7 separate regions of the Homo sapiens genome follow, and all the other regions are linked to region 1. Evidence: fine-mapped expression QTL. A gene starts in region 1. Each other region holds a variant in brackets. All regions are shown on one strand. Distances are between the middles of the regions.

Evidence for each region. PIP is the estimated chance that this variant, and not a neighbour inherited with it, causes the effect.
Region 2: its variant is fine-mapped to the expression of GEN1 in monocytes after Pam3CSK4 (Quach 2016, PIP 0.95).
Region 3: its variant is fine-mapped to the expression of GEN1 in ovary (GTEx, PIP 0.96).
Region 4: its variant is fine-mapped to the expression of GEN1 in whole blood (TOPMed, PIP 0.95).
Region 5: its variant is fine-mapped to the expression of GEN1 in whole blood (INTERVAL, PIP above 0.99).
Region 6: its variant is fine-mapped to the expression of GEN1 in lung (GTEx, PIP 0.96).
Region 7: its variant is fine-mapped to the expression of GEN1 in lung (TOPMed, PIP above 0.99). The same link has a PIP of 0.9 or more in whole blood.

Annotation. Positions count from the first base shown.
Region 1 is chr2:17,752,386-17,756,465 of GRCh38, reverse strand. GEN1 (GEN1 Holliday junction 5' flap endonuclease) reads right to left here and starts at 2,328. Exons shown (of 14, transcript NM_001130009.3): 1 at 2,121-2,328. It overlaps SMC6 (structural maintenance of chromosomes 6), which reads left to right and starts at 2,656. Exons shown (of 28, transcript NM_001142286.2): 1 at 2,656-2,840; 2 at 3,402-3,488. RefSeq lists silencers at 2,541-2,680, 2,821-3,180.
Region 2 is chr2:17,689,353-17,693,352 of GRCh38, reverse strand. All of the region lies in intron 23 of SMC6 (structural maintenance of chromosomes 6), which reads left to right. Among named protein-coding and RNA genes, the nearest start is that of SMC6, 62 kb to the left of the region's middle. The variant T/C (reference allele first, on the strand shown) is at 1,553.
Region 3 is chr2:16,975,557-16,979,636 of GRCh38, reverse strand. It overlaps LINC01866 (long intergenic non-protein coding RNA 1866), which reads right to left. Exons shown (of 5, transcript XR_001739184.2): 5 at 3,862-4,080. Among named protein-coding and RNA genes, the nearest start is that of LINC01866, 11 kb to the right of the region's middle. The variant CTA/A (reference allele first, on the strand shown) is at 2,014.
Region 4 is chr2:17,817,343-17,821,422 of GRCh38, reverse strand. MSGN1 (mesogenin 1) reads right to left here. Exons shown (of 1, transcript NM_001105569.3): 1 at 3,625-4,080. Among named protein-coding and RNA genes, the nearest start is that of MSGN1, 2.9 kb to the right of the region's middle. The variant A/T (reference allele first, on the strand shown) is at 1,913.
Region 5 is chr2:17,196,164-17,200,243 of GRCh38, reverse strand. No RefSeq gene overlaps it. Among named protein-coding and RNA genes, the nearest start is that of LINC01866, 230 kb to the right of the region's middle. The variant A/G (reference allele first, on the strand shown) is at 2,012.
Region 6 is chr2:17,796,904-17,800,983 of GRCh38, reverse strand. LOC105373449 (a long non-coding RNA gene) reads left to right here and starts at 670. Exons shown (of 4, transcript XR_939762.3): 1 at 670-880; 2 at 1,224-1,345; 3 at 1,759-1,833. The variant A/G (reference allele first, on the strand shown) is at 2,259.
Region 7 is chr2:17,630,111-17,634,190 of GRCh38, reverse strand. The region is part of intron 2 of VSNL1 (visinin like 1); the gene reads right to left. All of the region lies in intron 1 of LOC124908054 (a long non-coding RNA gene), which reads left to right. Among named protein-coding and RNA genes, the nearest start is that of VSNL1, 91 kb to the right of the region's middle. The variant T/C (reference allele first, on the strand shown) is at 2,179.

The DNA.
Region 1 (4,080 bases):
GAATAAGTATATTGATGTCAATCTGTTCATACAATCAACATATATATATCAAAAGAAGTCTAACATCTTCATAATTTTTTAAGAATTAGCTGTCACACAAGTCTACTTACATGAATCAATGATGTAAGAACAACACATAGCAAATAACTTTATAAACCTATTAATGGCTTAAATTGATTTAGCTTACTTATTTGAATCAACAAAGTCAGAACACATAGCAAACCACTTCATAAGCAATGGACTTCAGATAGGAAGCCTAGGATTTGGGTTTTGAATATACCACTGATTAGGTGTATGACCTTGGGAAGACATTTAACCGTTCTACAAAATGACAGGTATTAAACCAGATGCATTACAAGATTCTAATATCTGTAATCTAGTATTTAATATTTGAATTGCATGACCAACTGGTAGCATGGAATAAAAAAAAATCACTCTATTTCAGAAAGTATTGCTTGGTATAATAGAAAGAACATAAATTTCCATCTTAAAGGACTTAAGAATCCACTTCCAGTTAAAACAAAAACAAGTCCTTTGATGTAACCATATGGTGCCCATAAATCAATTTAAGTTCCTAAAACTTCCTTAAAAGCTAATAAGCTTTTATTGGTTAATTATAAAACTGAATGAGGTGAGAAAAACACAGAACCTTGTTAATTTCACTAATGAATCAAATTTAAAGAACATAAAGAGGTCAGGGGCTTAACTGATGCAAAAATACACACTTTATTAAAGCAAGTTTTGCAATTTAGTTCAGCTTTAAGAAAAACATTAGAAAATTTACTTCGGAAAAGCAGAAAATGCTTAAATTTCCCAATTTCCATTTAGATGAGTATATATTCATATAAAGACTGGTAAATGGTGAAAACTATTTCAATGCAAGATTATATTTTAAGGGATTTACCACATAATCTCAGTAACTAATGCTGTTCTTTAAAATTATTTTTTCAATTTTATTTTCATATGAATTTAGCCTAAACGTTGAGGCATACTTCACGTTTATCAATAAATACTTATTAAATGTCTACTATTTAACAGGAAAGCTTTATAGGTGCTGGAGATACAATAATGGAAGATCAAGCCCTGCATTTAAAGACCTTAGTAGGGTAAGTGAGACTGCAGATAAAAAGGGCTTAAGAGGTAAGAAAGCAAGCTATAGTTGTATTTAGGAAAAAAGGTCCCCCACTTAGGAATCAAGGAACGGTTCCTGAAGCAAGTGACATGTAAGTAGGGACCTCCCAACCGTGTTTCCCATTGGTTACAACAAGGCCAGATGTTTTGGTCTATTTTGACTATGTCATATTTTTCGTTGATCCATGGCAAGGGCCACAGTAGGAATATAATATATATGTGATTACTTTTAGAAATAAAAAGTGACTTTGATGTAAAGAATTCCATTACCGGAGGCCAGAATTTCAACATCAATTTATTTGGAGGTGGAGTGAGGTGGCAGTCAATGCATTATTTTCCCCACACAGAAGAGAAGATTTTGGAGTATGAAAAGTAGGTTACTTGTTAGGTCAGCATATTCATGGGAAGGGTTGTGTAAAGACTGAAGCGGGAGTGTGGGGTTGAGAAGGGCGCTGAAACCTAAGCCAAGGAAGTTAAGACTTCATTACTTCTGACGTTTATTTAGGGGGTTTACACTCTAGGTTACCGTGGGGGAAAGACTGATTGTAAATAACTACAATACCTTAAAGTAATTACTATAACAGAACTATATCCGAAATACAAGGTTAACACGGAAAAGGGAACACCCAACTGTGCCTATGGGGACCAGGGAGGGCTCTCCCGGGATGGCTTTGAGCGAGGCGTGGGAATTATCCCCATCGCATGCCCGGGGGAAGCACAGCGGGACCCAGCAGCTTCGGCCAAGCGCAAGCGGCCGGAGAACGCGCAGCTTTCCCGAGGCGGGGTGACGCAGGGCCCTCGCGAGTGGAAAACAGGGGCCAAGTCGCGGCCTGGCGGCTCGGTTCGGACTTCCTACTTTATTCAAAGGGAGTCATTGAAGGCGTTTTCGGAGGAGCAGCGAACAAAGAGCTCGTCCGTAAGCCAGATGGTCAAAGGAATCAGTGGGAGGACCCGGGCGGCGCCGTCTCTCCACGTCCCGCGGGACTTACCCGGACAACCCTTCCTCCTTGGCTCTGGAAGAAGCCCCTTCGTCATTTACCAGTTTGGCCTGAATCCTAACTACTGTGCCTCCAAATTTCTGAATTTTCTCAAAAGGAAAAAAAAAAAGGAAAGTCCTCTTTCTTTACCCAAGCAAAGACTAGCTCCCCGGGCTCAACCGCCAGGCCCAGGAGCACCAGGAAGCGTTTCGAATCCAGCGCCGGGCCCGCGCGGCCCCGCCTCTTCCGGGAAGTGACTGACCCCTTTCCCCCAATGGGGCCCGCTCGGCTTTCCCTTGCCGGCTCCCAGCCGGCCTAGCGGACGCATGCGTAGACCAGCTGCCGGGGGCGCTCAATTATCTTTCCCTTTTACTTAGGCAAATCACTCACCTCCCCCGAGTCCGGTCACTGCGGAGCCGCCCGTGCCTACCAGCTTCCCCCACCCGCTAAGGGGCACTTCCGGCCTCTCAGACTCCGGCGGCGCGAAACCCCGCAACTGCGCAGGCGCGGGCGGAGCCCGAAGGGAGGGAGGGCGGGGCGCAGGCGCGGTTAGTACCGCGGTGGGCGCCGGGGCTCCCGGGAATCTACCTTCTCCTGCGGCCGGCACGCGGTTCCCAGGGGGCCAGCGGCGGTCAGCCGAGGTCGAGACGCCCGCAGGGTGGCCTTAGCGGCCGGTCGTACCACGGCAGCCCCGCCGATCAGGTTCCTTTGGGAGACTTCGACTTGTTGGCGGTAGGGTGAAGGCGCGCGCTGTCGCTTTCCCTTGCTCCGGGGTTCATCCTCCGCCCGCTGCCCCCTTGGCTGGCGACCCCCAGCCACCCGGGAGAGGCAGGGTCAGCTGAGCTGCGGCGGTGTTCATGGTCGTCCTTGCGGGCCCGGGCGGGAGATGTCCGTTCCTCGGGCGGGTCGGGCGGCCGGCGGCACCTTCGCGCGCTCTCCGAGGCGGCACCGGTCTCCTGAGCCGCGGGAAACCTGGCGTCTGCTCCGGGCCGTCCCCTCCCAGGCGGCCGTCCCCTCCCAGGCGGCCGTCCCCAGACTCTCCCGGGCTGTGGCGAATAACTGTAAAGCGGGGAGAGGTCTGGGGAAAGCTGGGGTAGGGAGTGGCTCTTAGCATGAGTCTGATGATATCTCGCAGGCGGCAACTGGTGTGTTTAAAGGGTGTATGCAAAGATCACTGAAATCGGATTTGTCATTAAAGCCCAGTTTTACGAAAATGCAAATTGTATTACCTAGAAAAATTAACATGTGTTCAAAGGTTTACTGATGGCATTTCTCTGCCCTCATTTCTTACAGAAATGAACCGGAGAAGAATCCCAATTGGGAATTGCGGAAAACAGGACTCTAGGGTAGAGAAAGGTTGTAGAACCAATAGGGTTTGAGGTAATACTGTGAAAATTCTTAGAGCAATCATTTGGTGTTTGAGCCCTCAAGACAGAAGTTTTGTGAGCGCTTATTACTCTGCATATGTCACGAGTAGTAGATTAAAAGCCAGTGTTTTAAAGGCAAACTTCTCAGTAATATATATTCAAAGGAAAAAAGAAAAACCCAAATCTCCTGACTTTTATATGGTTGCAGTGTGATCTTTTAACATGTACAATAGTATATACAGTGGCATGCAGTTTGTTCCATGGGTGTGTGGGTAGAGAGGGAACATATTAGAACTTCTATTTAGATTTATTTCATTTGATTTCTACGTGAAACATAGGGTATTAATTTTATGTTGGAACATGTATTTCAAATTTCTTTTGCTTAATGGGTGCAAGTACAAAACGTTTGGAGGCCACTAGTATATTGCCTAAAAGCGTGTATTTATATCACAAAAAGCCAGAATTGTGTGACTCTGAGCAGGTTGGTACCACCTCTTTAAGTTTCAGTTCTTCTTATGCAAGTTGGAAGAAATAATACAGTTATCAGTGCATCCTCTGTATCCGTGGACTCAATCAAGGGACTGAAAATATTTCAGAGGAAAAAA
Region 2 (4,000 bases), 63 kb after region 1:
TTCCATGGTGTATGTGTGCCACATTTTCCAGTCTATCATTGATGGACATTTGGGTTGGTTCCAGGTCTTTGCTATTGTGAATAGTGCCGCAATAAACATACATGTGCATGTGTCTTTATAGCAGCATGTTTTATAATCCTTTGAGTATACACCCAGTAATGGGATGGCTGGGTCAAATGGTATTTCTAGATCCCTTAGCAATCGCCACACTGACTTCCACAGTGGTTGAACTAGTTTACAGTCCCCATCAACAGTGTAAAAGTGTTCCTATTTCTCTACATCCTCTCCAGCACCTGATGTTTCCTGACTTGTTAATGATCGCCATTCTAACTGGTGTGAGATGGTGTCTCATTGTGGTTTTGATTTGCATTTCTCTGATGGCCAGTGATGATGAGCATTTTTTCATGCGTCTTTTGGCTGCATAAATGTCTTCTTTTGAGAAGTGTCTGTTCATATCCTTCGCCCACTTGTTGATGGGGTTGTTTGTTTTTTTCTTGTAAATTTGTTTGAGTTCATTGTAGATTCTGGATATTAGCCCTTTGTCAGATGAGTAGATTGCAAAAACGTTCTCCCATTCTGTAGGTTGCCTGTTCACTCTGATGGTAGTTTCTTTTGCTGTGCAGAAGCTCTTTAGTTTAATTAGATCCCATTTGTGAATTTTGGCTTTTGTTGCCATTGCTTTTGGTGTTTTAGACATGAAGTCCTTGCCCATGCCTATGTCCTGAATGGTTTGCCTAGGGTTTCCTCTAGGGTTTTTATGGTTTTAGGTCTAACATGTAAGTCTTTAATCCATCTTGAATTAATTTTTGTGTAAGGTATAAGGAAGGGATCCAGTTTCAGCTTTCTACATATGGCTAGCCAGTTTTCCCAGCACCATTTATTAAATAGGGAATCCTTCGCCCATTTCTTGTTTTCGTGAGGTTTGTCAAAAATCAGATAGTTGTAGATATGCGGCATTATTTCTGAGGGCTCTATTCTGTTCCATTGGTCTATATCTCTGTTTTGGTACCAGTACCATGCTGTTTTGGTTACTGTAGCCTTGTAGTATAGTTTGAAGTCAGGTAGCATGATGCCTCCAGCTTTGTTCTTTTGGCTTAGGATTGACTTGGCAACGCGGGCTCTTTTTTGGTTCCATATGAACTTTAAAGTAGCTTTTTCCAATTCTGTGAAGAAAGTCATTGGTAGCTTGATGGGGATGGCAGTGAATCTATAAATTACCTTGGGCAGTGTGGCCATTTTCACGATATTGATTCTTCCTACCCATGAGCATGGAATGTTCTTCTATTTGTTTGTATCCTCTTTTATTTCATTGAGCAGTGGTTTGTGGTTCTCCTTGAAGAGGTCCTTCACGTCCCTTGTAAGTTGGATTCCTAGGTATTTTATTCTCTTTGAAGCAATTGTGAATGGGAGTTCACTCATGATTTGTCTCTCTGTTACTGGTGTATAAGAATGCTTGTGATTTTTGCATATTGATTTTGTATCCTGAGACTTTGCTGAAGTTGCCTATCAGCTTAAGGAGATTTTGGGCTGAGAGGATGGGGTTTTCTAGATA[T/C]ACAATCATGTCATCTGCAAACGGACAATTTGACTTCCTCTTTTCCTAATTGAATACCCTTTATTTCCTTCTCCTGCCTGATTGCCCTGGCCAGAACTTCCAACACTATGTGGAATAGGAGTGGTGAGAGAGGGCATCCCTGTCTTGTGCCAGTTTTCAAAGGGAATGCTTCCAGTTTTTGCCCATTCAGTATGATATTGGCTGTGGGTTTGTCATAGATAGCTCTTATTATTTTGAGATACGTCCCATCAATACCTAATTTATTGAGAGTTTTTAGCATGAAATGTTGTTGAATTTTGTCAAAGGCCTTTTCTGCGTCTATTGAGAGTCATGTGTTTTTTGTCGTTGGTTCAAAACGGCAACTATTCACAATAGCCAAGATATGTAATCAACCCACATGTCCATTAATGAATGAAGAAAGAAAAATGTGTATACACACACACACACACAGACACACACACACAGAGACACACACACACACACACACCAGAATACTATTCAGCTTTTTTATAGCTTTTTTGTAGCTGAATAGTATTCTGGTGTGTGTGTGTGTGTGTGTGTGTGTGTATACACATTTTTCTCTCTTCATTCATTAATGGACATGTGGGTTGATTACATATCTTGGCTATTGTGAATAGTTGCTGTTTTGGTTTAGTGATATATCTTGAAGATCTTCTTATGTTGGTACATAGATATTTCCTCATTGTCTTTTATAATTTCACTGTATTTAATAATCTCCTTTTCATGGATAGCTGCGTTTTAATCTAATCTTTTGTTGTTGCAAATGGTGGAACACAATAAGTGAATGCGCATTATTTTATATGTACTCAGCGTTTTTTTTTTAGTAGTATAAACTCCATATGGTCAGATTTCCCTTTATAGGGATTGTACCAATTTTGCATTCCCATTAGCGATGTGTTAGAGTGCCTGTTTTCCTACAGCCTAAACAGCGTGTGGCCTTCTTAGATTCTTTTTTCTGATAGATTTCCCAAGAAAAAGAATTAACCGTAATTTTAATGTACGTTTCTCTTACATTGAGTGAAGTTGAACATCTTTTCATTTATTTATATTTATTTTTCTATGACCTTTTCATGTACTTTTTTGTCTATTCGGTACATTATGCAGATTTTAAAAATTAAATTAATTTTGTGATAATATATTCACAGGGAGTTTTTTTTTGTTTTTTTGGTTTTTTTGTTTGTTTGATTTTTTGAAATGGAGTCTTCCTCTGCAGGCTGGAGTGCAGTGGTGCAATCTTGGCTCACTGCAACCTCTGCCTCCTGGGTTCAAGCAATTATCCTGCCTCAGTCTCCTGAGTAGCTGGGATTACAGGCGTGCACCACCACGTGCAGCTAATTTTTTGTACTTTTAGTAGAGCTGGAGTTTCGCCATGTTGACCAGGCAGGTCTCGAACTCCTCACCTCAAGTGATCACCTGCCTCAGCCTCCCAAAGTGCTGGGATTACAGGCATGAGCCACCACACCTGGCCACAGGCAGTTGTTTAAAAACCATACTGTTTTAGTTATTGTGGCTTTATGATGTTCTTTCTGATTTTCATTGTTAATTTATTCAGTGAATTTAGTAACCTGAGCAAAAGCTATTTATTTTTCTGTGCAAAATCAATTTTAATTCCATGGTCTGCTAGTCACTCACATATTACATTTCTCTATTAGTTATAAAGTAAAATAATTGCAGTAATGATTTAAGAAGCAACTGGAGCTCAAACGAAATTTTAATCCTAGTGGATTTTCCCATTTGGAATTAATAATGTATTGAATAGAGAAATTGCCTAGATCCAATTGCCATAGACATGCATCCATTATTGTAAATACAGCTGGCTCTCTGTATCCACTGATTCCATATCCACAGGTTCAACCAACCACAGATTGAAAAGACTGGGGGAAAAAACTCAAAAACAACAAAAAAAGAACACAATAGTAAAAACTAATACAAATTTTTTAAAAAATACAGAATACAGTGTAACAACTATTTACATAGCATTTACATTGTCTTAGGTATTATAAGTAATCTCTAGAGATGATTTAAAGTATACAGGAAGATGTATATAGGTTATATGCAAATACTATGACATTTATAAAAGGGATTCATGGATTTTGGTATCTGCCCAGGGGGCCCTGGATCTAGTTCCTTTGCAGATACTGAGGGACAGCTCTATCAAAAATCATAAAACTTCAAACATTATTGAAAGGCCATATATATTTAGCATGTATACATGCACACATATACATACACTCACATTACTTTACTTTTTTTTCTGTACCATTCAAAAGTAGGTTTCATAAATCATGACCCTTTACCTCTTAGTACTTCAATATATTCCCTAAGAATAAGAGTATTATCTTACATAACCACAATACTGTTATAAAGTACAGGAAACTTAACATTGATACCTGTAGTCCAGTTCCAATGTTGACGGTTCTCCACGTC
Region 3 (4,080 bases), 780 kb after region 1:
AATATTTGTTTTTTTGTTATCGTTGTTGTTTTTGAGATGGAGTTTTTGCTCATGTTGCCCAGGCAGGAGTGCAATGGTGAGATCTCGGCTCACTGCAACCTCCACCTCCTGGGTTCAAGTGGTTCTCCTGCCTCAGCCTCCCGAGTAGCTGGGATTATAGGTGCCCACCACCATTCCTGGCTAATTTTTGTATTTTTAATAGAGACAAGGTTTCACCATGTTGGCCAAGCTGGTCTTGAATTGTTGACTTCAGGTGATCCACCTGTCTCGGCCTCTCAAAGTGCGAGGATTACAAGTGTGAGCCACTGCACCTGGCCAAGGGGTAATATTTGAATGGTACAATGTTACTGGGCCTCCAGCTTCTCCATGTAGAAGCATACAAAGAACTGGGGCCACAGTTTTGTGCTTTCAGGCTTTTTTTTTTTTTTTTTGTGAGACAGGGTCTTGCTCTATTGTCCAGGCTAGAGTACAGTACCATGATCATGGCTCACTGCAGCCTTGACCTCTTGGCCTCAAGCAATCTTCCTACCTCTCAGACTCCGGAGTAGCTGGGACTACAGGCATGCACCACCACACCTGGCTGGCTTATTTTTTGATTTTTTATAGAAATAAGGTTTCATTATGTTGCCCAGGGTAGTCTTGAACTCCTAGGCTTAAACAATTTGCTCATCTCTGCCTCCCAAAGTGTTGAGATTACAGGTGTGAGCCACCATGTCCAACCACTTTTAGGCTTTTTCTCAACAGGAAAGGGAAACTGCACCAGTGTTGTTTACTATACAGACTCTTGAGATTCCAGAAAGACTTTTCTGGTGGGCCAACTATCCTGGGCATTTTGTGCATTGAAGGAAAGGATTGCAAGTTCCTTGTCATTTCTGTGTTCCAACTCATGATGTCATGACAACTGTAGGACCACCTTTCCTGATGCCAGCCTCGGTTGTGAGAGGAAAACATTTCTCCTCTCCTATGGCTCTAACTCCTGACCCTTTCCCCTTATCTCTTGCTCTCACCTCCCCTATTTCCAGTGGCCAAGACTGTCCCTTGCAAAGCAGCTGCAGCATCTCCAATTTTCTGGTTTTTCAACATTTTTCCTGCCATGTCTATGACAGTCTTGAGTGTTCTCTTTCCAGGAGCAGTATTTATAGCTTTTGTTTCCGCACCACTGGTATTTTTCCAGTCTTGGAACCATTCCATTTATTTAGTTGAATGAATTGTCTTTTTCAACTCTTGGAATGTTTCCTTTGATTCTGAGTCTGCTTGTGGTGCTAAAATTTCTTAACAACCTGTTGGCCAAGGCCCCTTCTTTCTCTTCTGCAGAGGGAACCTAAAGCTGTCCTCTGTGAGAAAGAAATGACTGTGGAATTCATTCTTTTGGTCTTCCAGTTGGGTCATCTCTGCTTATCAATCCACACAGTGGAATGGACTAGAGGTGGCTCCTTCATACCAGAGTAGAAGCAACCTTATTTTCCAATATAAATTTATCATCTTTACTAGACTGAAAACATACTGGCCTTGGATAGAAATTAAGTAAAATTTTCTTCTTCTTCTTCTCCTTCTCCTTTGTTTTTGAGACAGAGCCTCGCTTCATTACTCAGGCTGGAGTGCAGTGGCGCAATCTCTGCTCACTGCAACCTCTGCCTCCCAGATTCAAGCGATTCTCCTGCCTCAGCCTCCTGAGTAGCCGGTATTACAGGTGCCCGCCACCACAGCCTACTAATTTTTGTATTTTTCGTAAAGACTGGGTTTCACTGTGTTGGCCAGGCTGGTCTTGAACTCCTGTCCTCAAGTGACACTCCCGCTTCAGCCTCCTAAAGTGCTGGGATTATAGGCGTGAGCCAGTGTGCCCAGATCTTTTCACTTTTATTGGTGGGCTTGTTTGTTACTGTAAGTTAAAGTAAGAGTCTTCAGAGAATGTAAAACAATTAATCCAGTGACTAATGGGATTAATAGTTTAGCAGTGATCCAGTTGTAGCCAAAAGAGTTAAGTGTTGAATCCCTTCTTGCATCTTACAAACT[CTA/A]CCACTGTATATTCATATGTCATCAAATTCTCATCTGTTCTAACCTTGCAGCCAGTATGGGAAGTGAGCTCTGATCTGTGGGAGGTCAAGGGTCAGTGGGCTGTTTCAACCCACTTTAGAATCTCTTCAGCAGTGTTACAGCAAGGTTTTATCCTAAAACATGCTTCACCATTAAAAAACAATAATCATTTGGATTTTTATTTTTCTTCCAGTATACCATAGTGTAATCTGCATGAGTAATGCTTCATCTTCTGAGCATGAAGAGAATATACTTCTTCCACAATACAATGTTTTGACTCCTTAGAAAATTATAACTTTTTCTTGGTTTGTTGTTTTTAACTTTATCATTCTCATGGGTCACTAAATGATGCTTCTGCAAAAGGTGGCACTCTTCCCCCAGATGCCTGCATGCAACCATCACTCCCTTAATTCACATCTCTGCTCAGATCCTACCTTATCAGAGAGACTTCCCACGACCCAATATATGAAGCTCCTCTCTCCAAGTATTATCTGTTCCTTTGATAATAGTAGGTGATCCAAGAGAGAAAAGTAGATGGATGAGGATAAGGGTAAAGCTGTTTTCCCTTTTGTGTTTTTTGAAATTTTTGAATGATATAAACATATTATACATTCTAAAAAATTTTTTTCAGTTAAAAAAAACTAGATCTAAAAGTGTATTCCTGTGTTCCCAAAGTTTTTTTTTTCTTTTCTTTTTTTTCTAGTTTCCAGTTTCTCCTGTGCTAATGAGATGGGGCGGTCTCACTTCATTCCACAGCTAAGCCTTGCAGAACTGCCTAACTCCATTCTGGAGGATGTTGCATGGCCCAAGCTCTAAGGGCAGGTGATCTGGTGACTTCAGTTTGAGTTTGGTTGTGTTGTAGGAAGAGGGAGAGAGGCTGTCTAGGCTAAAAGAGTGTACTGGTCTCCTATTGCCACTTTAACAAACTAATCCAAATATAGTGGCTAACAACAACAGAAATTTCTCTTACAGTTCTGGAAAACAAAAATCCAAAATGGGTCTCACTGGGTTAAAATCAAGGTGTCAGCAGGGATGTGTCCCTTTAAAGGCTCCTGGGAGACTACATATTATTATTAGCACACAAGCCAACATATCACACCCAGAATCTCAGGTTCATGCACCGATGTCAATAAATTCAACCCAATTCAATGATATATTCCTCTTAGTTTAAAATCCTTAGAATTCCCATGTATATCACTCAGTTTTCTGCCAATACAAATATAAAAATCTTGCATGTCTTTAGGAGTATGAGCCTTCTTCTATGCCAGCCTCTGTGCCTTATCCCCCTTGAGTATGCTGAGATCCGACTCTATTTCAACCTTTAGATGTCAGGAGGGATGGGTGTAGATCTTGAGAAAAGTAAAACCCTCCTCACAAAGCCATTGGCTTAGGTGACCTTATTACAAGCAAGAGAAGACTGGTCTATTCTGTTATGGAAGAACGGGCTGCATCTGCTGGTAAGAGAGCTTAAGAAAGATGTGGGGATTTGGCAGGGCGTGGTGGCTCACACCTGTAATCCCAGCATTTTGAGATTACAAAGTGGAGGCTGAGGTTGGGCGGATCACAAGGTCAGGAGTTTGAGGCCAGCCTGGCCAACATGGTGAAACCCCGTCTCTACTAAAGATATAAAAAATTACCTGGGCTTGGTGGCGCACACCTGTAATCCCAGCTATTCAGGAGGCTGAGGCAGGAGAATTGCTTGATCCCGGGAGGCGAAGGTCGCAGTGAGCTGAGATCATGCCATTGCACTCCAGCCTGAGTGACAGGGTGAGACTCCATCTCAAAAAAAAAAAAAAAAAAAAAAGATGTGGGGATTCAGTATTCTCAGCTTCATTCAGGTTTTTCTAGATACCCCATTCAAAGTCTCAGGAACCCAGTCTTTTCACAGAACTTCTAGGTTTCATTTGTAAAATGTAATGAATCTATAAATCCAAGGGTTTTTTATTTTGGTAATTGTGCAATGTATAGAATTAAATTATACTTTATTAATTATTTTATAAGGATTTTAGAAGCTTTTTATGACTAAGACTTGCACTAACAATTTAA
Region 4 (4,080 bases), 65 kb before region 1:
ACCAGAGTAGGCATATGTGAACTGTGGTTCTGCAACCCTTTCCCTGTCCAAGCACCAGAAATAACTTATTCCTAATCTTGAGCTTTGCCCAGGCCAGATGCTTTGAAACACTCCCTGGAGGATTGAGGGACCTATTCCAGCTATCCTCCCGATAAGGGAGGCGACTCCACTGGGGACTGGCAGGAGTCAAACACTCATATACAGCTGCCTATCGTGTACAGCAGTTGTGGTTGCAGCCTGGCAATCTGGGAAGGACTCAGTGGGAAAAGAGAGTAGAATGATAGATAACAGAGGCTAGGAAGGGGGTGTGGGTGAGACAAGGCTCTGGGCCACAGGACCCCTCCCAGGAAGCTGCCATCTTCTCCTGGTTTTGCAGACACCTACCCTCTAGTGGGTCCCTTAGAAGTCCTGAGGGCATACCCAGCTAATAGGTGAGTCTGTGACATTAAGGGATATTTTGAAACTGAGGACAGGAAATACCTCCTAATTCATTCACAGTATTTGGTGCCCAGGACAACCAAAATTGCCCAAGCTATTTATAAACCATTGTTAATACTTGAGCTTGAAAAATCAAAGCCAAGAGCATTTGAGTCCCACTCATTTAAAAACGGTGAGGAAAATAGCATTTGAACCGAAAGTTGATTTTTAGAACAGCTGGTTCTCCCTTACCCCAATACCCTCCTCCTTCTCCAACACAAAAAACACAACCCACACATACACATGCATGAACACATACATAGGTGAACAAATACGTATATATGTGCACACACATACGCTCTCACATGAACACCTGTACATGTATGTGATAAAGTTCCTTGGAGAAAGTCTTCATATTGTTCAATGTTTTCTAGCTTTTTCTCTAAAACACCAAATATATGAGAAGCTGATGAAAGTTTATATACATAGAATGACATCTTAGCAACTGTGCCTCACCACCACCCACCAATCCTTGATGACAAGCTACACAGAAATAAAATTAGATTCCTTCCACACACTATAGACAAAAATGAATTAAAGGTATTTTGAAGACCCATAAATAAATAATAAAACTGTAAGAGTATTTACAAAACATCAAGAGAACACTTGGACAACCTTGGAACTGGGGAAAATTAAGCAAGGGAGAAAAACACATAAGCCATGAAACAAAAACCAAATTTGATCATATAAAAATGAAAAGCTTCAAAAAAAATGATGCCATAATCAAGATCATAAGACATCATCACCGGGCGCAGTGGCTCACGCCTGTAATCCCAGCACTTTGGGAAGCCAAGGTGGGCAGATCGCCTGAGGTCAGGAGTTGGAGACCAGCCTGACCAACAGGATGAAACCATCTCTACTAAAAATACAAAATTAGTTGGGCGTGATGGCACATCCCTGTAATCCCAGCTACTTGGGAGGCTGAGGCAGAAGAATTGCTTGAACCTGGGAAGCGGAGGTTGCAGTGAGCCAAGATCACGCCATTGCACTCCAGACTGGGCACCAAGAGTGAAACTCCGTCTCAGAAAAAAAGAAAAAAAGACATCATCAAAACAAATATGCTGGAGGTCAATATGTTAAGTAAAATAAGCCAGGCACAGAAGGATAAATATTGCACGTTCTCACTCATATGTGAGAGCTAAAAAAACTTGATCTTATGGAGGTAGAGAGTAGAATGATAGCCTGGGCAACATGCTCTACAAAAAATACAAAAATCAGCCAGGCATGGGGGCACATACCTATAGTTCCAGCTACTCAGGAGGCTGAGGCAAGAGGATCGCTTAAGCCCAGGAATTTGAGGCTGCAGTGAGCTATCATCGCACCACTGCACTTCAGCCTGGGCAACAGAGTGAAAAAAAGAAAGGAAAAAGAGAGTAGAATGATAGGAAACAGAGGCTGGGAAGGGAGTGTGGGTGGCGGGAGGGGTGGGTAGGGG[A/T]TAAAGAGAGGTTGGTTAATGGATATAAGCATAGAGTTAGATAGATAAATAAATTCTAGTGTTAGATAGCAGAGTAGCGTGACTATAATTAACAACAATGAATTGTATATTTCAAAATAGCTAGAAGCAAGGACTTGAAATAGTCCTGAAATGATAAATATTCAAGGTGATGAATACCTAAATACCCTGACTAGATCATTACACCATTACACATTCTATGCATGTAACAAAATATCAAATGTACCCTATAAATATGAATAAATATTATGCATCAATAAAAAAGAAAAAAGAATACAATATAAAAAGATTGGAAGGAAATATTCCAGTACATAATATACAAAGAACTCTCTCAAATTAACAAGAAGATAAAGCAATAGAAAAATGGCAAATTTATAAACTAGCAAGTTTTAGAAGAGGAACCAAAATGAACAATGGTCACATAAAATAAAGACGCTCCACCTCAAATGACAGACAGGGAAGTTAAAATTAACACAACAATGAACAATTTTTATCCATTAAAAATTCATAAAATTGATAGTATCCAATGAAAATGTGGGGCAACTGGTTCTGTCACATAATACTAGGAGGAGTATACATAACTACAAACTTTTATAGAAGTGACATAACATTATTTATTAAAATTTAAAATGTGCATACTCTGATCCAATAATCCCATTTCTGGGAATTTTTCAAGCTAATGAACACATCAGTAGATAAAGCTAGTTGTCTATAACCTTTGTTATAGCATTTTTGTCATAAAAAACCTGAAAATAACTTAAAAATCATTGAAAAGGTGACTCGCTTAAGAAATTTTGCAGAATCTGTTCTATGGAACCTTGCTAGAACCTCTGTTTTCTGTTATACTTTTTGCATGTGTGACTCAGCAAGTCATGCATCTGTTTCCCCATCTATAAAATGAAGGTAATAATGGTATTTACACCACAGATTTATTTGTGCTAACTTGGAAGAACTTGTACTGTATATTGTTAAGTTAAAAAAGGAATTTTCAGGTTTTTTTCTTTAACATTTATGTATGCTTACATTTATTTGTATACGTTTGTATCAGCAAAAAAAATGGACAAGTTATATATATTTGTATATGTTTGTATCAGCAAAAAAAAAATGGAGAAGTAGAGAACACATCTACTGCTTTTGTAATTTATGTCACTAAAAAGAAAACAAAATCACCAATAGAAAAAAGATGATAGGAGACATGTACAACAAATACTAATGGTTAATAACCATAGGGAGAAAAATTCAGCCTTAAAAAATCTCACTAGTTTTCAGAACCTCCTTAATTCAAAGCCCCCTTTTCAATGTCCTGTGCCATTCAAATGAGCTAAACTGTGGGTGCTACAGATACCCACCCTAAGACAAGGCACCATGAAGAGTGGGTGTGTGTGTGATGGGTGCATGTGGGGGATCTGGAGTTGGGGGGAGGCAGATGGATAGGAGGGGAAGATGAAGAAGTAAATGCCTTTGGAGGGGTCAGAGATTGTTCAGTTCTAACACTGACCCTTTTAGTTATTCTTTATGGGATTCGAATCACTTTTTTTTTTTTTTTTTTCTGAGACTGTCTTTTTATTTGACAAACGGGTAAGTGAAAGGACTAAATAAGGTCCTGTTCATACCAGGCCCAGAACAAAGGACAGGGAGACCCTGCCCACCCAGCCTTGCTTCAGGTCCACCCTGAGGTGCTGTCTCCTCCTCCTCCTCCCCGTACCCTCCTTCCCTGTCACACAAGCTGTTTGCCTGTGAAGAGGAGGCTCTGGCTTTTGGAATCTTCACTGTCTTAACTTAGCCTGTCTGCCTGTGACTTTCCATTTATCATGACACCAGTGCCTTCCGCATTTAAGTGATTTTGGTCCCTGCAACAGCATGATTTCAGTCAAACACAAACACACACACATATACACACGAAATGAAAACAGGAGCACTAAAGCCCTTTACTTGGCACAAATCTTTCTAAATAAGAATCCAGATATCACACTGGATCCTATACAAAATACAGGTTTTGTTAGCAACAGAAGAAAAGGTCTCAACGCCAAAATGGCAAGAGATTAACACTTTTACATTATTGAAAAAAATGCATTTAAAATCACTGACCCTTTAAAATACCTTGAACAGACAGAGAAGGGCAAAATAATCTGTCTGTTTGCAAAGGATGA
Region 5 (4,080 bases), 560 kb after region 1:
AGATTTTCTGGGTAATTTTCTGCTCTCTGAAGGCATCCTGTACTTAACACTATCATAATATTTTCATGTCATATTGGAATTATTGCTTGTGTCTCCCCCCATTTGACTGAAAGGGAAATACCCTTGAACATGAGGGGCATTACTTGTTTTGCATCTGAATTCCTAGCAAAATGTGAAAATAGATCAGAAGCTCAATAAAGTTTTGACCTGAACTTGACTGCATACAGTCAGTATGCTTTCTTGCTTAGACCAAAAAACTTCCATGTTTTTTTTCAAGTACCTGGAGCGGCTCCCAGACCTCATTAGTCTCCTCTCAAGCATCCGCTCAACCTTGCCCAAGGAAAAGTGCATTATATCCTTTTAATACAGAGAGGAAAGGAACCTCAGGGATCAAGTTCAATGCCTTTCATTATTTGAATTTTAAAGTCATCTTGACACGGTTATGGAATCCTGGATTTGTGAGAGAATTATTGGGTTCCAGATCTAAAATCACCAGGATTTATCAAGTATGGTGCCTGACGCATAGTAAGTATTTTTTTAATGCTTGTTCCATTAAAGTAACCGAACCACATCTTATATTTGGCAATTTGATTACCTGCTCTGAGCTTTGTTTTTAATATGTGTACAACACAAATTATATCACAAGGTAAAATAAATTCGCCAAGCTTTAAGCTCCCTAGAGTGTTTTACAGTGATTTCTGAGAGTTCTACATGGTACATCTCAGATGCTCAGAAATCCTTTTCTCTTTCTTCAGCCTCCTCCTTCAGCTGCCCTGAGGCTGCCTTTGCTGGCTGCTTCTGCTACTGCTGCTCTGAGAAAGGGAACCGTGTTCTTGGTGTTGTGCTCTATCCCTTTAACTTCTCACTGGTCTGCAGAGACCAGGCAGTATCAGTTAATTGGATTTTATCAAAAATCCTCTGATACTATATGAGGGACACAATCTAGAGAATCATATGCAGCCCTGCAGCTTTCTCCAGCCAGTCACAGAGTTGGTATTCAAAAACTAAGAATTACTGATGTGCTCAGTAATAGAAGCACTCTGAAACAAGAAAGCAGATGTCCCAATCCAGACCAATTTTCCTCTTGATGAAGCATTAGAGATTGAGTTCAGAACCACATTTTTATCCTTCATAGTCCATTGTCAGTAATCATGTAACGCGCTCTTCATGGGTCTCATTCCTATACATTTCAGAATGTAGCTTCTATTACTCTCAATCAGTCTTTTTATCATCTTCTCCAAATCTAGCTAAAGACTTCCTTCCAGGTATGGTTATAAGTAAACACCTTGACCTTGTGAACCACACCTATTAGTGCCACAATTCTGGTGCTCAGATAAACATCTTTTTGTACAATGCTACATTAGCTTGACTTATTTCTGTCTGGGTGTGCACTACATAACACAGGATACTGTGTTGGATAAACTGTGAGTGACCTTCTGGAAATTAATAGTCAATTAAGTGAGATGTACCTAGGATTATAGTTAATATTTTGTAATGAAAGTACAATAGATTGGGGAGGGGAGAAAAGGGAATTAGTTTGGATGGATAATGTGGGGACTCTTACGCAGGGTCTTAAAGGATGTGTAGGGAGTAAGAAAGGCTTGAGCAGATTCGATGGGCTGATGAGTTGAGAGTATATTCAGAAAATGTCAAGTAGGCTGATATAAATGAATTTATGAGAAGGGGCTTTGGGAGAGAGGGTAGTGTGTTAAAAGATGAATCTAGAAGGTCATTTGAGGCCACCTTAAATGTGGAGAGTTTTACATTTCACAATTGGAAGTACGAATCAGTTTGATTGTTCTAAGAAAGACTGAGTTATATGCCAGGAAGAGCAGTGGCGTTTTAGCAATAGTTGGCAGTTGTCAGAAAGCCTTTATGTGATTTTTCCTTTTCTGTGGCCTTTGTAGGTTCAGAGCCCAATAATGAGCCTTGGGTAATTTTCAAGGAAGCAATGACCCTGTGCCTTACACCTTGGAGCCACAGTGGATCTGAGGTGGTAAGGGTGAGGTGA[A/G]CCAAACACCAAAGCCAGAGAAAATCAATGGCTGTAAGTAACAGCAGCCACAGAGCTGCAGATTGCTCTAGTGGCTGCTGCATCGATTTCAGCTCCAGCTTCTAATTGCTGCAGTAGGCAAAATGCATGCTTCACTTTTGAATGTTTAAGGCTCTGTGGATTTTCCTGGAGCATGAGCTAGAGCTTTTTGTTTCCAGTGCTTCTATATATTGCTCATTTGAGCATTCTGCTAATCCCTGACCTGTGTGAAGCTTCTCCATTTCACGCTTATGCTCTATCTTCCAGGACACAATGTAGTTTTCAAGGACAATGACCACGGCTTAGATGTTCTTGTTTGTCCCATGGGGCTAGGCACATTTTCAGTGGACAATCCTTGATGAACTGAATTAAATGTCAATTTAAGTTGTGGTTATTATTGAAACATTATTGGTATGATATGAAAGACATTTTTAATCAGGAAATGAAAGCACTCAGAACCCCACTTCTGTACCACAATAATTGTATCCCTTTTTTCAAAATCTTTGATAGCTTTTGGTCATTTTCATGCCCATCTTGACATAGTTGCAATCCATTCATTCATTTATTTAACAATTCTTTGCTGAGTACATATTAAGTATGAAGCATTAATGATCAGATATTATAGAAAATGCAATTAGTAGGGACTGATAGTTTTGAAGATTTTATTCTCTTGATGTTATATCAAAATATTATACATATTATTTTATAACTTTTATAAAAGTTGGGGAAACAAACCTGGTATCTTCCTTTGCTCATAAGCCAGATGTGGTGTTACAGAGAACTAGAGACAAGTGCACTTAGACCACCCTGTAATGGGGTTTCAATTCATAGCCACTCTCATCAACTCAAACAGGTCAGGCAAGGACTGGTCTGATAGCTTTGGCTGTCAGTGGATCCATGGTAGATAGTGATGATGACTGACACTCATCTCTTATAATTGGCAGTGCATAATAGATAAAACAATTCTTACTGACAGAAAATGTTCACAACCAAAAATTTACATGAAAGCTAAGTTCAGACTTTCATGATTAATGCCCATATTTTGGGATTATTGAAACCTGAGAAAATAGGTCACAGAGGATTTTAACTATGTGGACATGAGAGCAAATTCAACTCTTTTACCTACCTACCCTTCCTCAAATAATCCCTGTCATTGAACAAAGATATTTCTACCTAAGTGGGTTCCCTTCTTCCCATCTTAGAGTGTCTGGGTTGCTCTAAACCAGCTGAGCAGGACAAAGTTGGAAAAAGCTGACGGCTATCCTAATGCTACTAATCCCTGCCCTTGGATACCGATGATTCAGATGAGCATCTGAGGAGGAAACATCCAAAGCTAGTTACCTGAAGCTCAGCTTTCTCTTCTTTAGAAAGTGCTGACATTTCTGCTTGGTTGATATGTAGCCCACATGATCTTAGACGTGCATGATCAAACAATAATGCCCTGGGAAGTCATATTCTTAGTAACTGTCATGTTGCTGTCCAAGTCGGGATTTACTTTCATTTTGGACCCTGACAAGGATTGGCTTTCCTAACCAAAAGAAGAATTAAGACCTTTTCCCATATCTGTTGAGCGCAGGTACTGATCAGAGTACAGAGAATGTACTGACCATGAGGGGCAGAACTCAGAAAGAGGAAGAGGGACAGGGCAATACAGCACCACTGAGCAGCCCTATACTTAGCAGTGAAGGGAAGTCAGGCAGTTTTATGGATGACATACTGGAGGAAAAGATAGCTTTGCATGGTAAAACTTCAACAGCCCAAGAAATGTTTAGCTTTATTTTCCATAGATTGTCTACAAAGAATTAGGCATTCGTTCAAAGTATAAAATTAGAATATTAAATATACTTTTATATAACACACTTTGGGCTGCCCAGATATTTTTATATGAGCCCCCTAAAGATTTATGTCACTTTGTTTAAATTTTTGAGCTAAACAAGCTTATTAGATTTCTAGTGATAAAGAACTTGAGACGAAACCCAGTAAATGCCCATTTTTGTTGCATTGCCTCATAAATTGCATATATTCTCACTCCAGAGAGTATATGCAGTTTT
Region 6 (4,080 bases), 45 kb before region 1:
CCATTCTCTGCCTGATTCCAGGATAATGCTACACTGTCCATATACCACATTTTCTTTTCTTGGCCTTTGCCTGGCTTGTGTCCCTCACTCAACTGTCCCTTCCTCTCCCTTGACCTCTCAGATTCTACCACTCCCGCTAAGCCAGGGCCAACTGTTTTCTCCAGAAACACTCTGCCTCCTCCAGTTCTCAGTGACCAATTATCTGGATGCCCACAGAAGCTTACTGTAGTGTCCTATATTTTCTAGCAATTTTTTCACTTTAAACATAGAAACAAGGACCTTAATAATTAATAGTACAAGAATGCTGTCATATAGTTTGTAAAAGATTATCATATCGATTACATCTTTGGAGCATCACAACAGTCTCATGAGGTGGGTAATGGTTGTTATCTCTGGAGAGTTCAGAAAACCAAAGTTCAAAGAGGGAGGTTTTTTGTGCTTGCTTATGGTAAAACTACCAGCAAGTGGCAGCATTAAAAGACCGTACCACTGGTAAAAGGCATAGGGGGTTCCCTAAAACTCGAAACAGAGGAGTTTAATGAATGGCTGTCTTTGTTGTCTAGACCCGAGGGAGGGACAAGACAGTGGACTTTAAAGAACAGCTGCACGTGGAGCTGTGACTGTCATCCACACACTCAGATAAATGGTTGGCTCATTATTGCAGCTGCTGCTGGCTTTAGGGAGCTGGACAGCTGTTGCCAGGAGATGGATTCAAACAGAACAGAGAAAACGGAATCCTGTGATAATGACTGTGCCTGTATGTATGGACACGATGTTCTTTCTTCTCATAGCTCAAAATGTTCTAAAGATAAAATCTAATGATTTCTTATAGGAAGGCTAGGCTTGGTGGGTACAAGTAAGAAAGCCAAGCAGAGAGAAGGTAAGTGTCTCAACTCGCCTTTCCAGGGCATTCTCAAAAATGAAGACTTTTGGGGGGCTACACGGCCCTTTCAATAATTTGTGAGAGCATTTGTGATAGGCTCTCCAGAAGCGTATTCCTGGCAGAGCTGGGCAACACTAGCAGTGTCTGTGCTAAGGACAGACGAAAGGATCAGAGACAATGCCCTCACTCCCCTCCCCTCCCTTCTCCTCTCCTCCCTTCCCTACAATACGTACCTCATGGAGCTTAGCATTTTGTTCTCATGCTGTAGGGACTGTGCCTGCTGATGACTCCTTGGCCTGTTTTCTCATTGATATGTTTGTTATTCATCTTGTCACTAAAGCTTCCTGGTCCTTCTCCACCTTTCCCTTTCCTCCAGTCTGGACTTTGCCTTCTCCACCTCCTTGGAAGACAGGCTGCTCATCCCATTGTGGTGTCTCGGCTGGTGTATGTTTTCTGCCTAGGGTGAGTGGTGCCATCCTACTGCCTTTCCAAATCCTAATTGTTTTTTCTGATCTACTCTGACTCCCAGCAGTCACCACTTCGTGGTCTTGATGGCCTCTGTTGTGCTTAGAGTTGGTGCTGCACAGCCCAACACAGGATTTCCTCCTATGGGAAAGTCCCCTCAATTAGACTAGAAGCAGGGACAGGAAGGAGGACCTGCCCTTCTGCTGATCACCCTCAGCTGCCCAGCACTGGCTCTGTATGTGTGTGTATTCAGCACCCACTTGCTTGAGAATCTTTCTTTCTCTACTTTTTTAAACTCACTTTTCTGATTTAAATTATCCTGTTTTATGATATGAACTTATAGTTATGAAATAGTTACGAAGTTACGTGGAGTACTTTCCATGCATTTTGATTAGTACTTTATCTCACAGCTTAATGGACAGCACGAGGAGGTAGGGACTGACGTTACCCATGTTTTACAGTGGAAGAACCTGAGGCTTAAAGAGGTAAGATAACTTGCTGCAGGTCACACGCTGGTGGTCCAAATGCCTTAACTGGTTGCTACAATGCCATGCATAAACCAAGTTAAGAGTTGTAGCATAATGAACGTTTCAAATGAATTGGTGGGCTGGCATTTGGGAAACAGAGTGTTCCTCTGCAAAGGCTGGGCTCCTGCCACCATATCCTGGGGCTTCATCTGGGAATGGATATGGTCCAACCCAGGGTTTGGTCCTCCTTAGGTGTTGAGGTGGAAAGCATTACACTGCTGGTGACAACCAGCTTGGGGGGTTCCAAACTCTAGTCCTTGCAGCTCTGTATGCTGATTATTTGACCTCAGAGGATCTAGGAAACAGGGCTGAAACTCAGGTTTTCTCAGGAGATGTCTGTTTCCCGAAAAGCTACCTCAGAGAAACTTACATCTGTGGGCACT[A/G]TCTTGGAGGCAATTCTGTGTTGGCGAAAGTGATCGTCCTTTTTCCTAATTGAACCAATTATGGTTGAATGATGAGGTAAGCTAATCAATGAACTCTCCTGGGAACCCTCGGCCAGAGTGTGAAATGGCACAACTTGTTTTCAGAAGACATCTTTGCTGAAAATACATTCTGGCTGCAGCTGTTTTTTAGAGATTTAAGTGATCACATTACATCGTAATCAAATCCTTTGGCAGCCAGTATTCTCCAGGTGGCTCAAGGCAACCTGCATAAAGCAGGCAGAACATGTGGCTCAGAGCCACCATTACCTGTGCCTACAGCATCCAGTCCTGCCATGCAGGATGAAGGAGGTAGCAGGCACCTGCCTCTTTGGCCTGATTGGCATTTTCTGCTCCCCGCAGTGTCCTGTGCTGAACATCTTCCCACTCAACTCCTCTCATAGGAAGCCTGCTCTGGATGGCTTTGCCCTCCATTTTTTTATTATTATTATTTTGAGACAGAGTCTCGCTCTATCACCCAGGCTGTAGTGCAGTGGCATGGTCTCGGCTCACTGCAACCTCCGTCTCCCAGGTTCAAGCAGTTCTTGTGTCTCAGCCTCCTGAGTAGTTGGGACTACAGGCATGTGCCACCACCGCCCGGCTAATTTTTGTATTTTTAATAGAGACAGGCTTTCACCATGTTGGCCAGGCTGGTCTCGAACTCCTGACCTCAGGTGATCCATCCTCCTCAGCCTCCCAAAGTGCTGGGATTACAGGCATGAGCCACCATGCCCAGACAGCTTCACCCTCCTTAAAACTGATGTATCTCTTCCCTACTTTTATATCCTAAGATCCTGAGCTTTAAAATAGCTAGCCAAACGAAAACACCAATGGAGACTCTTTGGAAGGGACTGTGCTCAGTCTGAGGACCCAGAGCCAAGTCACAGACATGACCTCAAAAGCCAGTACTGTGCTCTTCCACATGGCATCCACTGGCCACGTGTGGTGATTTAACATGTGAAATGAAGTCTCAAGGCTGAGATGTGATGCGAGTGTATAATACACACTAGATCTCAAAAACTTAGTAGAAATAAAAAATGTAAAATATCATAAAAAGATTTTAAAACTACATAAAAAGAAAAAAAATTTCAAAAGAAATAAAGACAACAAAACAAAAACATAAAATATCTCACTCATGATTTTTGTATTGATTACATGTTGAAATAACATTTTGAAATATCGTGTTAAATCGAATATAGTATGAAATTAATTTCACCTGTTTATTTTTTTTTTAAAGTGTGGCTAACAGAAAAGTAAAGATATATGGTTGGCATTATATTTCTTTTTTTATTATACTTTAAGTTCTAGGGTACATGTGCACAACGTGCAGGTTTGTTACATATGTATACACGTGCCATGTTGGTGTGCTGCACCCATTAACTCATGATTTACATTAGGTATATCTCCTAATGCTATCCCTCCCCCTTTCCCCCACCCCACGACAGGCCCCGGTGTGTGATGTTCCCCTTCCTGTGTCCAAGTGTTCTCACTGTTCAATTCCCACCTATGAGTGAGAACATGCAGTGTTTGGTTTTTTGTCCTTGCGATAGTTTGCTGAGAATGATGGTTTCCAGCTTCATCCATGTCCCTACAAAGGACATGAACTCATCCTTTTTTTGTTAAATGGCTGCATAGTATTCCATGGTGTACATGTGCCACATTTTCTTAATCCAGTCTATCATTGATGGACATTTGGGTTGGTTCCAAGTCTTTGCTATTGTGAATAGTGCCACAATAAACATACGTGTGCATGTGTCTTTATAGCAGCATGATTTATAATCCTTTG
Region 7 (4,080 bases), 120 kb after region 1:
ATGAGTGAGCGCATCTGCAAGTCTAGGCCTTAACCTCTCTACTGCACGCTCTTTGATGCCCTCCTCCACCTTCTCCCCCACACTCCAGGATGAAAGCCACTCTGCTTAGTCCAGTCCCACAAGGCCCTTTTCGACTTGGGTCCTGCAAACCTCTCCAGCTTCATTTCTCCACCACCCTCACCTCCTCAGACACTCCAAGCTGGTGCCGATCCATGGGAAATCTTTCCAGAGTGCTTTTGCATGCTTTGCCCATGCTTTTCTCTTGCCCCTTCACTTCTTGCTAGCTCCTGTTAGTCCTTTATCACTCAGCTCAAGGGGCACTTCTCTGAGCCCCTTGTCTTCTCAGCCTGCTCTTTCCTTTCCACCCCATATTCCAACTCTCTCCCCTGCCTAAGCTGAGTTAAGGGCTTCCCCTCTGAGCAATGACAATACCCTGTATCGATGCACAGGGTCACTTGGGCCTTGTCTTGTCACGAGCTGTTTTATGCCTGCCCCCAACTCTGCTCTGACATCCTCCAGGGAAGGGTCACTCCTGACTCATGTCTGTATTCTTAGTGCCTGGAACACAATGGATATTCAATAAGTATTTCCTGACTAACTCGATAGGTGAAGGTGGCCTCTGCTAGATCCATCACATTCGGCTCTTACTTTTAATTTTTTTTTTTTCTTTCTGAGACAGAGTCTCACTCTGTCACCCAGGCTGGAGTGCAGTGGTGTAATCTCGGCTCCCTGCAACCTCTGCCTCTCAGGTTCAAGCAATTCTTGTGCCTCAGCCTCCAGAGTAGCTAGGATTACAGGCACTCACCACCATGCCCAGCTTTTTTTTTTTTTTTTTTTTTTTTGTATTTTTAGTAAAGATGGGGTGATATGGTTTGGCTGTGTCTCCACCCAGATCTCATCTTGAATTGTAGCTCCCATAATTCCTATGTGTCCTGGGAGGGACCCAGTGGGAGGGTCATTCCCACACTGTTCTCATGATAGTGAATAAGCCTCACGAGATCTGATGGTTTTATAAAGGGGAGTTCCCCTGTACAAGCTCTCTCACCTGATGCCATGTAAGACATGACTTTGCTCCTCATTCGCCTTCAGCCACGATTGTGAGACCTCCTTAGCCATGTGGCACTGTGAGTCAATTAAACCTCTTTCATTTGTAAATTACCCAGCCTCAGGTATGTCTTTATTAACATCATGAGAACAGACTAAGAAACAGGGTTTCACCATATTGGTCAGAGTGGTCTTGAACTCCCAGCTTCAAGTGATCTGCCTGCCTTGGCTTCCCAAAGGGCTAGAATTATAGGCATGAGTCACTGCACCCGGTGCTTTTCTTACTTTTAATACCAAATCATCCAAGAAGTATTTTTAATGCTTATTTCTGCATTTCATAGTTCTTCTCCAAAGGGTGATTTATTCAATGTATAACTGAAGGAAATATGCTGTGTCTATTTTTTAAGGCACTTTAATGAAAATAGCAATGCTTTTTTCTTACTCTATAGATAGTACACATTTACGAAGAAAAAATTTAAAACACAAATAAAGGAATAATTAGCCGAAAACCTACCACTCAGAGTTATTATTAAGAGTGATCATTGTTTGGCCAGGCACAGTGGCTCATGCCTGTAATCCCAGCACTTTTGGAGGCCAAGGTGGGCAGATCACGAGGTCAGAAGTTCGAAACCAGCCTAACCAACATGGTGAAACTCCATCTCTACTAAAAATACAAAAATTAGCTGGGTGTGGTGATGCATGCCTGTAATCCCAGCTACTTGGGAGGCTGAGTCAGGAGAATCACTTGAACCCGGGAGGCAGAGGTTGCACTGAGCTGAGATTGCGCCACTGCACTCCAGCCTGGGCGACAGCAAGACTCCATCTCAAAGCAAACAAACAAACAAAATCAAAAACAAAAACAAAAAAAAACAATGACCATTGTTCTAGGAGTTCATTGATTCAATGTGTATTTATTGAACACTGACAAAGTTTCTCACACTGGGGATACAGCAGTGAATCATACAAAAAACCTTACCTGGCCAGGTGTGGTGGCTCACGCCTGTAATCCCTGTGGGTGGAACAGTTAAGGTGAGGAGTTCGAGACCAGCCTGGCCAACATGGTGAAAAACCGTCTCTACTAAAAATACAAAAATTAGCCAGGCATGGTGGCATGGGCCTGTAGTCCCAGCTACG[T/C]GGGAGGCTGAGGAAGGAGAATTACTTGAACCCGGGAGGCGGAGGCTGTAGAGAGCTGAGATCATGCCACTGCACTCCAGCCTCAGTGACAGAGCGAGACTACATCTCGGAAAACAACAACAACAACAACAACAAACCTTACCTTCATTCTAGTCATTAAGTATGTACCTGTGTATGGTTCTGCATTCTTCATGTTTACACATACACGCATGTATATTTATAACTCTAGATTTATTCATTTGGTGCTACGTCATGAAAACCTTTTAGGTCACTGGCTTTAAATATATGACCCCCTTTTTAGTGGCTGATTAATATTCCATTATATGAATGTTCTATAATTTATTTAATCAAATCTAGAGACTCTGACAATGGTTTAAAACGTCTTCACTGTTATTAATACCTTAAAGTGTTTTATTTATAAAATTGATCTGGTTATCTCCTAAACATGGACTATGGGTGAAGGAATACACAAATCTTACTTGTGACCCATATTGTCAAACCACCATCCAATAGTTAACCAGAGTGCTAATGTGTGATGCACCCTTTACATTGCCTCTGATACCAGAACAATGATACAATATTATCCAACCATTTTTGCATTTCTCTGATTTCTAGTGAGGTTCACTATCTTTTTTATATCCTTTGGAAAAATCATATACAAGTTGCTTTTTTTTTCCTGTGCAAAAGTTTAGATTTTTATATGATCAAGGCATCAGAATTTTCCTAAATGGTGTTTGGTTTTGGTGTCATTTTGAAAGTCCATCCCCACACCGAGATTCAGAATATTTCCCTATGTTTTCTTCTAATACTTTCCTCTCTCTCTCATTTACCTTTGAATATTCACATTTAATTTGTGAATATAATGGCTAGACAATTGTTATAAGATTTAATGAAAAGTCCATTTTTTCCTTTCTGATTTAAAATGCCATTTTGGGCTGCGCACAGTGGCTCACGCCTGTAATCCCAGCACTTTGGGAGGCCAAGTCGGGCAGATCACGAGGTCAAGAGTTCGAGATCAGCCTGGCCAACATGGTGAAACTCCGTTTCTACTAAGAATACAAAAATTAGCCAGGCGTGGTGTTGTGTGCCTATAATCCCAGCTACTCAGGAGGCTGAGGCAGGAGAATTGCTTGAACCCAGGAGGCGGAGGTTGCAGTGAGCCAAGATCGTGCCACTGCACTCCAGCCTGGGCAACAGAGCAAGGCTCTGTCTTGAAAAAAATAAATTAAAAAAAAATAAAATGCCGTTTTGCCCCATATATGCGGGTGTATGTTTGATATGTTTGAACTAGTTATTATTTCTTTATTTGGTTGTCAATTTATTCCTCTGTTAACGGCATAGTATCTTAATTATTGCAAGCTTATAAAATATTTTAATATGTGGAAGTTATCATCTTCTCTCTTCTTCTTTTATTATTGAAAATATACTCTTCCAGAGGAACTTTAAAATAATTAGATCAAGTGGCAAAACAATGAAACAAAGCAAACTGTGATGAGATTTTGATTGAGATAGCTTTGAGCTGCTACATTCATTAGGGAGAGCTGGCATCTTTGCAGCACTGAGTCTTCCTATTCAAGAACAAGGAACATCCACTTGCTTATTTATGTCTCTCAACTGATGAGGCTTCTGCAGTGTGAACTGCCACCTCCCTTTCTCACAGAGCTGCAAGCCCTGCAGCTTTGGAGTAAGGGCATTGAGCCTGAGGGAATGACTCAAGAGGGCACTCTGGGCTAAAATTCCAGTGACAGTGGCAGGAGGCAGCCAAATGCCTAGGCAGATGAGGTGGGTCCATGGTGAAACCCTACCTCCAAGGTACATACTTAATTACTAGAAGACAAGGCAAAGACAGTTGAAAGCCCGAAATCCAAGCTACAAGTAAAATACACGGACGAGATTGAGAAT